Linked DNA regions of Homo sapiens: region 2 is linked to region 1. The links come from fine-mapping of genetic effects on gene expression. A gene starts in region 1. The other region holds a variant in brackets. All regions are shown on one strand. Distances are between the middles of the regions. Region 1 holds the start of OGT (O-linked N-acetylglucosamine (GlcNAc) transferase). Region 2 overlaps OGT (O-linked N-acetylglucosamine (GlcNAc) transferase).

Region 1 (5,377 bases):
TGGTGTGTTTTTACAGAGCACTGATTGGCGCATTTTACAAACCTCTAGCTAGCCACAGAGCGCTGATTGGTGCGTTTTACAATCCTAGCTACAGAGTGCTGATTGGTGCATTTTACAATCCTCTTGTAAGACAGAAAAGTTCTTTAAGTCCCCACCCAACCCAGGAAGTCCAGCTGGCTTCTCCTCTCACATCTATGTATTTCTTTGGCTTCATTTAACCTTTGGAGCCATTTTTTTTCAGCAGCAGTGCAACAGCAGCCACCAGCCCGGGTCTCATCCAGCGCTGGTGCTACTGCTGTGAAATGTGTGTTGTTCTGAGCAGCTGTATTTGTGATACTTTGTTACACAGCAGCAAAAAAAGTAATGCAACATCAGTGGTGTTACTGGGTGACAAAGTTTGGGATTGGGGTTGAAGACCCAGCTGATTTAATTATAATTGGTTCTAAATTTAAAATTGCACATAAAAAAAACCCAGAAATCAATGTGAACAACAATAAAAAACATACAAAAGCACTTCCTTCAATGTCTAGATCAAGGCTTCTTTCTCACCCCCTCCAACCTTACCTGTTTCCTCCCTAGATATTCATAGAGAGTAATATATTTTATCATCTAAATAGTCTTCTGTATTGCTCTCTAGTAGCTTTTTGTGTCTACCTAACTAGGCTTCAGATTCCTTGAGGGCGAGGATTTCTGTTCATTTTTGTGCCCCCCACAGTGCCTTGCACATAGAGACTCTAGTAAATGTTACTTATTGGCTGAAGAATTAGGAACATGACCTGCATTTAACAACAAAAAGAGTTTTTGTTAATTAGCTAGCACCCGCTCATCAGCAAGGCCTAAACATCTGCCAGTGGAATCTGAGAAGTCTCTTCTAAAAGTTGAAAAGCTGAGTTTACTCATTACAGATAGGGAACTTGTAGTAGGTGTGTGTGTGCGGGGGGGAGGTTTTACCAGTTAAATCAAATTACAAGAGGTTGGTGCTCAATTTTCAGGAGAGTTTGTGTAGTGATTTTTGTCTTTTTCACTGCATGATGTGACTCTTGATTATGGGATGGAAGAAATTAGCATTATGAATTTTCTCTGTGCCATTTCCATAATTAATTGTTTGTTGACTGTTTTGAAGAAATTTAAGCAGAATTTGAGGACTTAGTTTTAAAAAATGTAGTGAAGGGGCTAGGTAGCAAAAACTTTTTGAAGAAATTCATTGACCTGCTTTCTTAGATCAAGGACTTTTTGAAATAAAAAGGCTCTCAGAGATCCAACTTGTAGCCTCCAGTGGCTTGTAATACTTTCTTGCTGATGTGGCAAGCTACCTTAAGTCGTTTCTAGAACAAGAGGTGAAGTATAAATACCAATGTGACAAAATGTCTGAACAGTAGACTTGAAACTGCAGGAAGATCGTAAGAACCGATTTGTTCAAGGAAGTAGAGGCAATTCATGACTCAATCTAGACGTGTGGTTTAGGCAGATGGCAAGTGAATTCATTTATCATTGTTGATCTGCTTTGAGCTCAGTGGAATCGCCGACTGTGACAATGTGCAGAGCTAGCTGGTGGAAATGAAGTCACAACTCGAGGAGAGTCATGGATTTTGACGAACGTGAATCACCTTTAACATTTTTATGGCTGCCTTCGGAGTGCAAACGCCCAGCATGTCCCTGAGTTATTAAACATTTGCCCTATCACCGTGGGCAGGAGTATTCTGAATACCAAAACGATTTTGAAATTTCAGGCTATACGGCCAACATTGAAGGTGTCTGCATTCAACTGGCCCTGTGAAAGCTTCAGTCTTTTTCATCGAAGTGCTGAAATCGATGGCCGAGTCACAATGAAGACGGGCTCAAATCGGAACCCTCTCGCTCCTCGTTTTGAGCAGCTGTCTTTGAGAGGCAATCTTCTGAATTGACTGGCTCAGAATTGATCCGTGAGAGTCGTAACCATCCGTTTTTGTACGAATACAGTTGATAAACTTTTTTAGACGCCTTTGGCATTTATGTTTAAAACGACACCACCTGCTAAGTAACAAACACTCTTCTTAATCGCGGTGGCAAAAACGTATCCGTCCCGTGTGTGTTTGTTTTTACCCTTCCGCTACACTCTTAAGAAACTTGGCCGCTTCCGCCCCAGAGAGTGCCCTAACCACGAGTCGGGTTGACAGGGCTGCTCGCATGCGCGGTCTCCACCGTGGTGTTTGTCGCAATGGGCGCTGCGCGGAGGACTACATGGAATCTCGACTTTGCAGCTTGAAGTCATTTTGTTGGCGGCGCTGGTTACCGGCTACCTCCGCGCGGGCACTTGATTGTAACAGAAAGTAGTTCCGGCCCATGTTGTTTCGGCCGAGGAGCCGTCGCCGCCATTTCAAGACCGTACTAGGTAGATGGTCAATTAGAGTTCCCAGGGTTTGAAGCCTGTAACTGCTGCCGCCGCTCAAGCCCTCCAGAGCATTGCTACGGCTGCTGCCCTTGTACTACTACCTCCAAATACGTTCTTGCTGGTAGTGGCGGCAGCAGGACCAATTACCTCTTTTTTGCTCTCCCTCGAGAAGCTCCAGATGGCGTCTTCCGTGGGCAACGTGGCCGACAGCACAGGTACCGGTGTCCCGTTCTACCTTGGCAGATGCCCCCTTGGGGTCTCGCGCCGTCCTCTACCTTGTATCACTCCTTCCCTCCCTTCCCTCGAACCATCCCCATTACATCAGTGACATTGCTAAGCTTTTCGTGGTCTACTGGCATCTGATCACATCGGGTTTTCCGCTGTTGTCCGCTTCCCGAACATTTCCTCCTCCTCCCTTGCTTGCTTTTTGCTGCCTTTCTTGCTTTGTTTTTATTTCGTAAATGTTCTAGCATTCCACTCTCTCCAGGCGCTTTTATCACACGTGCGCGCTTAGAATGTCGTGGAATGGACTGCATTGGAATCCCTGCCCTTTCACTCCTTTGCAGCGGTTTTCTCCCCTAATTCCAGCTCATCGCCTCTCCTTTTTCCCCTCCATCTCCTCCTTCATCTCCCCCCCCAGTCTTTTCCCCTTAGCCAGATTTGGTCCTTCTCTGCCAATCTAGGGCGGGGGTGCCGTTCCGATGTAATCATATCCTCACTTTGCATCACCCGAGGACGATCAAAAGCTCGTCGATGGTGCCACAAGTCACCTCGAGAAGAGGGGACATTGAGCAGCACCCTGCTAGGCAGTGCCTTTCTGGTGTTCTTTCGGTTGAGCGGTCCCGGTTTAGATTGGAAATTTCCAGGGGTTTCCTTTGCCATCGCCCAATTCCACCGCTGCCCTCAGCCTGGATTTCCCACCCTGTCCGCGGGGAACCACACCCTTCCCTTCGCGAGGTTGCCAGCCCTGTTCACTTCCTATCCTTGGGGGAGAAACCACCCCGATGCTGCTGCTTTGGCGTTGACCACCCTGCCCGCCCAATTCTCGCTTTGTGTTACTTTCTCGATGTATTCCTCCGCCGCCGCCTCTGGGTCTGCCATCCCCATTCTTCAGCCCAGTATCTCTTTATTCACAGGGTGTAATATTCTTTTAAGTTTCCATCCCTGCTTGAAGAGTTTGTAAAGCAACTGGAGTGTAGCTGCACAAGTACAAGGCGGTTGCCCTTTTAGACACTTCAGTCGCGAGCATTTGGTACTGAAAATACGAAAACAACCAAATTGTAGGAGTGTCCTTCAGCTGCCTTTCCATATTGAGGCGATTTGGGCGGAAGGGGGTGGGGAATTGGGCTGCGCTTCTGAGGTTTCCCGCGAGGTTATTTTTTGGTTGTTTCTCAGTTGAGATGTGTGGAGGGTTTTAGCTACTGTTCCTGGAAGTTGTGCTGTAAGTAGTAGGTGAATCGTCAATAGTGTCTTATCCGTAATTGTAGGGAGTGGGATTAATAATTAGTCCGTGCTCCTCTCCCCACGTCTCCACCGTGATTTTCAAAGGTTTAAGATTCTGTACTGGATTCTGTACTAGCTTGCCCTTTTTAATGTGTTATTTATTTGAGAAAGCTGTCGTTTCAAGTGTTAAAATAGCAGATAAGCGGCATTGAAAAGTGACAAAGTAATGTGTGAAAACAAGGAGCTAGGAAGTTCTAGAGACTTAGCTAAAATGTAATTTTAGTTTCTATTAAAGATATAACCTCTCCCAGATGTGGATGCAAGTCTCAATGCTCTTTGTGTTGGTGGTCAGCTGTGCATTCTGTCAGGAAATTTACTTTGCTTTCCTCAGTATCCGGAACGCTCATCAGCTCTGATGATTGGGGAGCTGGGCTCAAATTTGAACTAGTCACCTTAACCTTGGTAGAATTAAATAATTTGTCCATGGTTTCCCATTTCAACCAGCTAGTGAAGTGCTACGGTCGAATTCCCAGTTTAAGTATTTACAGTTGTGACAAGCAGTTTTTTTTTTTTTTTTTTCCCTCTCTGGGCTTTAGCTATATCCTTTAAAGATCTTTATGTATCTGGATTAAGTCACTTGCAGCGAAGTGCTTTTATTTATTCATTATGTTGCGCTTTATCAAATATATTTTAGCGTCCATCCTCCCTCCCTCCCAACGTTTTGACCATTGCAGTTGCAGGTAACTGCCTGGCTTATATAGGCTTGTTTGCAATGTCTTAATCCTTTAGTCAATACCAGAGCTGTTTGGAAAATGTTAGTGCTAAACCAACGTGGGTGGGATTTAGCCAATTTAGTCTCCTTTTGAGTTTGGGATGGTAGAGGAGCAGTGTAATCTTGGGTCTTTATTTAAAATGTTTGATGACCCCTTTAACTATTTTGGCTGTTGTCAAATGACAAACATCTTGTTTATCAGCTGTTTTAAAAATAGCACTTTGACTTTTTGGTTTTTCCCTTAGGCTCGTTTCTACTTGTCCTTTTAAAGAATTAAATTCTGAAATATACAAAAATTGATATAATTTAAAGAATTAACACATCTGGTGTCCTCACTGAGGTTAAGATTGATAGATTGTTACCAGTACTCCACCTCAACAAATCCAACCTGAAATATGGCACAAAATATTACGTTTCCCAATATGTTATTCTGATATTATTAAGTCTTTGTGACCTTGCAAATCACACGTTTAATATTTTGTTTCTGTATGTTAACTAAGGTATAAGGAATAATGTTCAGTGAATCCTTAGATGCTACCTATGATTTATAATTTAAAAGTACAAAGTATTTTTGGTCATAAAATGTAATCTCATATGGAAGTAAATATTCCTTTCTAGTTTGGGAAAGAAAGTATTAATGGGTGAATTCTAAAAATGCCAATTCTGCACTTGATGTTAACTTGAAGATATACATAACGTGCAGAACACTCTAGTGCTTTACATAGTTTCAAGCATTTCCATTTTTAAGTTAAATATACCATATTTTTACATTTTTTTGGTTTACATTTCTA
Region 2 (5,377 bases), 27 kb after region 1:
CTTTTTGTTGTAAACTAAAACACAAATACAGAAAACTGTAAAAATCAAATCTGTGGCTTAATGAACGATTATAAAGTGAACACCACCCAAGTCGAGAAATAAAACTTTTGTGGGCCACTTCAGAACCCCTTCCATTGTGTCCTGAGTATAACCCCCTGCACTTCATAAGACGGAATCCTTAACTCCTTCACTTAAACACTAATGATAGACTGATGGTACTTTTCTTTAAGTTGAAAGCCATAATTTTTTTTTCTTTTATCTTTTTTTTCTTTTTTTTTTGAGACGGGGTCTTGCTCTGTCGCCCAGGCTGGAGTGCAGCGGTGTGATCATGGCTTACTGCAGCCTTGACCTCCCCGAGCTTAGGTGATCCTCCCACCTCAGCCTCCTGAGTAGCTGGGACTACAGGCGCATGCCACCACACCTAATTTTGTGTTTTTTGTAGAGATGGGGTTTTGCTATGTTGCCCAAGCTGGTCTTGAACCTCTGGGCTCAAGTGATCTGCCCACCTCGCCCGGCCAAAGTGCTGGGATTACGGGTGTGAGCCACCGCGCCTGGCCAGCCATCATGTTTAATGGAGTGCTTGGTATTTTGTATTCACCTTTGAGAATTAGAGCAGTACTTGATCAAGGATTGGATCAAAGGTTGGATAATAGATTGGAGTGCTAGGTGTACTTTTTTTTTTTTTTTGAGACATAGTGTCTCTGTCATCCAGACTGCAGTGCAGTGGTGCCATCTCAGCTCATTGCAACCTCTGTCTCCCAGGTTAAAGTGATGCTCGTGCCTTAGCTTCCCGAGGAGCTAGGATTACAGGCGTGTGCCACCACGCCTGGCTAATTTTTGTATTTTTAGTAGAGATAGGGCTTTGCCATGCTAGGCTGGTCTCGAAATCCTGACCTCAGGTGATCCACCTGCCTCAGCCTCCCAAAGTGCTGGGATTACAGGCATGAGCCACTGCCCCCAGCCATAATTTTGTTTTTAGAAAATGTTTCCCTATAGAATTTTCTAAAATGCGGGAGGAAACCATGCTCTGTCCATACTGCTTCATACCTACAAGTGTTAGATTTGCTCGTACTTTTTTTTTTTTTTTTTTTTTTTTTTGAGACAGGGTCTTGCTCTGTTGCCCAGGCTGGAGTGCAGTGGCACAACCTTGGCTTACTGCAACCTCCACCTCCCAGGTTTGGGCGATTCTCCCACCTCAGCCTCCCAGGTAGCTGGGACTACAAGCATGTGCCACCACGCCCAGCTAATTTTTTTTTTTTTTTTTTTTTTAGTAGAGATTGGATTTCACTGTGTTGGCCAGGCTGGTCTCGAACTCCTGACCTCAAGCGATCCACCTCCTTGGCTTCCCAGAGCGCTGGGATTTGCTCATGCTTTATAGATCTCAGGAGCAGGTCAAAGTATGAAGCATATTACATAAAGTGCTGAGGTTGCATCTCTCTGGCAATATTAACTAAATGCTCTGGGCAGACCTTTTTCAACAGGTGTGAGGTATAGGTTTGGTGTGTTTTTCGTCAGTTTTCCTAGATGAAAATTTATGTAGATTTTACTAACAAGCATTGGATTCTGTTGATAGATTAATGTTCTTCATAAACCACCATATGAACATCCAAAAGACTTGAAGCTCAGTGATGGTCGGCTGCGTGTAGGATATGTGAGTTCCGACTTTGGGAATCATCCTACTTCTCACCTTATGCAGTCTATTCCAGGCATGCACAATCCTGATAAATTTGAGGTAAGACTAGTGTTTCTCTAGAATCACTATTTGTTTAAAAAAGAAAAAACCCACAATGTTGGCTTGTCACCATGAGGCATGGAAACCTAGTGTCTTTTGGAAAGATTTGAGCCAGAAAGATTTGAGCCAATGTTATTAAATATGCCATGTGCTGCCTTTCAGGTGTTCTGTTATGCCCTGAGCCCAGACGATGGCACAAACTTCCGAGTGAAGGTGATGGCAGAAGCCAATCATTTCATTGATCTTTCTCAGGTAGATGAAACTCTCATACTTTAACTTTTTATTTTGAGCAAGTTTAAATAAAACTATTAGCATATAGTTTATTTTTGATGATAAGTATTAAATGCTGTAGTACCACATATAGGCAATTGTGTTGATCTTATTTCCTTGATCATTTGTGTTAATCAGCATGGCTTTTTCCGAGGTTGCAAATGAAACTGAAATGTGTTATGCTTGTGCTTGGACATACAACTTTTCTGGAGATTGAGCCAGCACTTGTGACAGAAGATACTTAATAAATATTGACAAAATGGTGACTTGGGAGAAGAATAAATAGGTCTTTTAAAGAAAATAGGGCCGGGTGTGGTGACTCATGCCTGTAATCCCAGCACTTTGGGAGGTCGAGGCGGGCAGATCATGAGGTCAGGAGATGAGACCATCTTGACTAACATGGTGAAACCCCGTCTCTACTAAAATACAAAAAATTAGCTGGGTGTGGTGGTGCATTCCTGTAATCCCCGCTACTTGGGAGGCTGAGGCAGGGGAATCGCTTGAACCCGGGAGGCGGAGGTTGCAGTAAGCTGAGATCGCACCACTGCACTCCAGCCTGGCAAGAGCAAGACTCTGTCTCAAAAAAAAAAAAAAAAAAAGAAAAAATAGATGAACTATGGTTCATCAGTTTCCATGGGCCTTTGCCTTTGGTTATCTTTATTTCTGTACTTGTTCTATTGTTGTATCCTCTAGGAGAGTAAGTTTTATGATAAATTAAGATTGAAACCTATGGGGGAATTAATTTGCTGAGTATGTAGGCTACAGTGTTTTCTTTGTAGACTCTATTAGCCACTTTGACTAATAGAGATAATATACTCTTTATATGTGTGTGTACACACATGTATGTATGTACATACACATGCAGGTATGATATGTATGCATATAT[G/A]TATAAATATACATGTGTATGTGTATATATATATGAATCACTGAAGTCCTAGCAGAAAGGTTTTGAGACTTCTCATTTAATAAATAGTATGTACTAACAAATTTTGCAGTATAGCTGTTGCTTCAAAAGTATACCTGGCCATTTTTGATACACAGTTGGACTCTTTGTGACCAAGAAGCATACCTCTTTCTACCTCTGAGACCTTTAGGGACTCACTGCTGATTGATTGCAGTCTAAACTCTTCAGCATAGCTTTTGTAACCTTTCTCTGTTTGCCACAACTTTGTCAATACTTTAACTCACCATTCAACATCTTGTATACCCTATACTAAATAGAAGTGAATTACTCACCCTTTTTTTTTTTGAGATGGAGTTTTGCTCTTGTCGCCCAGGGTGGAATGCAGTGGCACGATCTCGGCTCACTGCAATCTTTGCCTCCCAGGTTCAAGCGATTCTCTTGCCTCAGCCTCCCGAGTAGCTGGGATTACAGGCGCCTGCCACCACACCCGGCTAATTTTTGTATTTTTAGTAGAGACGGGGTCTCACCACATTGGCCAGGCTGGTCTCGAACTCCTGACCTCAGGTGATCCACCTGCCTCGGCCTCCCAAAGGGCTGGGATTACAGATGTGAGCCACCATGCCCGGCCTACTCACCATTTTCTAAACTCCCTCACACTTTACTCTAGTTCTTCATTCATACTGTTCTCTACTGAGATTGTATTCTGTTAAACTCCTTCAAACTCCTATTCGTCTTTGAAGACCTATTTTCAAATACCAATTCTAGGCTGGGTGCTGTGGCTCACGTGTATAATCCTTTGGGAGGCTGAGGTGGAAGGATTGCTTGAGACCATCATGGGCAACATAGTGAGACCCCATCCCTACCAAAAAAAAAAAAAAGATTACAAATTTCAAATACCAATTTCTCTGTGATATGTTGTTATTCATACATTCAATCCAGAAGTGAACTCTCCTTCCTTTGTGTTCTGTTTCTTTAATGCTTTGGGCCCATTTTAATGACAGTCAACCATATTTGTGCCCGAATTAATGTAGTTAATTTGTGTTCTTACCTCTTTTCCATCTGGGAATCTGAATTATGTTAAATGCCATTAAAACTAAATGCCATTAAAACTAAATGTCATTAAAACTAATTGATCTGAGATTATACATAGTGAGTTCTTATTTTGTATTCTGTAGATTCCATGCAATGGAAAAGCAGCTGATCGCATCCATCAGGATGGAATTCATATCCTTGTAAATATGAATGGCTATACTAAGGGCGCTCGAAATGAGCTTTTTGCTCTCAGGCCAGCTCCTATTCAGGTAAACAAATTAACAGTCATCACTTATAACATGTATTTGGCTAAGAATACAGTGAGGTGCTGCTTTTCCTCCCTCTGGTTAACTGATATTTGAAACTGTAGGGCAGACATACTTTTAATTTTTTTAAGTTGTTGAAATGCACAGGACAAAAAGAGTGTAGAGCACAGTGCTTATAGGTACATGTATATAGAGACATGCAATTCATGGTTGGCTATGAACAGTTACTCTGTCTTGCAAATTTGAAGAACATTTTAGCATTTTGAAAGTTAGTCTGAAATACAGGCCGGGTATGGTGGCTCACGCCTGTAATCCCAGCACTTTGGGATGCTTAGGCAGGAGGATCTCTTGAAACCAGGAGTTTGAGTCCTGCCTGGGCAACAAAGCAAAACACCCTATCTCTACAAAAAATTAAAAAATTAGCCAGAGTGGTGGTGTGCCTCTGTGATCCCAGCTATTTGGGAGGCTAAGGTGGAAGGATTGCTTAAGCTTAGGAGTTTGAGGCTGCAGTGAACTATCACTATGCCACTGCACTCCAGCCCAGGTGACAGAGTAAGAGTCTCTCTTATAGAACTGCTTCATTGCTTTCGGCTAAAGAAGTCAGCCTTGCTGTGCGTGTGGCAAGTGCCTGTAATCCTGGCTACTCTGGAGGCTGAGGCAGAAGGATTGCTTGAGCCCAGGAGTTTGAGGCTGTAGTGATCTACGATTGCACCACTGTATTCCAGCCTAGGGAACAGAGTGAGATCCTGTCTCTAAAAAAGAGTTAGACCTCCTTGTTTATTTACTTATTTAATTTTGGCACCTTTAGGTTCTTTTTTTAAAAACCACTTTATTGAGGTACAGTTGACATACAAAAAGTTGTACATATTTAATGTATGTGACTTGATGAATTTAGAGGTAAGTGTACTGATAAAAGTTCTTAATCAGTTTTTGATCTGATTTTTTTAAGGCAATGTGGCTGGGATACCCTGGGACGAGTGGTGCGCTTTTCATGGATTATATTATCACTGATCAGGAAACTTCGCCAGCTGAAGTTGCTGAGCAGTATTCCGAGAAATTGGCTTATATGCCCCACACTTTTTTTATTGGTGATCATGCTAATATGTTCCCTCACCTGAAGGTAGGTATGAAACAGTGCTATGGACGAATTTCAAAGAACTGTAGCTTTTTATT

The links. PIP is the estimated chance that this variant, and not a neighbour inherited with it, causes the effect.
Region 2: its variant is fine-mapped to the expression of OGT in whole blood (TOPMed, PIP 0.99).

Annotation. Positions count from the first base shown.
Region 1 is chrX:71,530,751-71,536,127 of GRCh38, forward strand. It overlaps OGT (O-linked N-acetylglucosamine (GlcNAc) transferase), which reads left to right and starts at 2,354. Exons shown (of 22, transcript NM_181672.3): 1 at 2,354-2,586. The coding sequence starts at 2,550. RefSeq lists enhancers at 1,405-2,604, 2,105-2,444, 2,270-2,928.
Region 2 is chrX:71,557,694-71,563,070 of GRCh38, forward strand. OGT (O-linked N-acetylglucosamine (GlcNAc) transferase) reads left to right here. Exons shown (of 22, transcript NM_181672.3): 13 at 1,574-1,732; 14 at 1,895-1,984; 15 at 4,082-4,207; 16 at 5,154-5,324. Among named protein-coding and RNA genes, the nearest start is that of GCNA, 18 kb to the right of the region's middle. The variant G/A (reference allele first, on the strand shown) is at 2,889.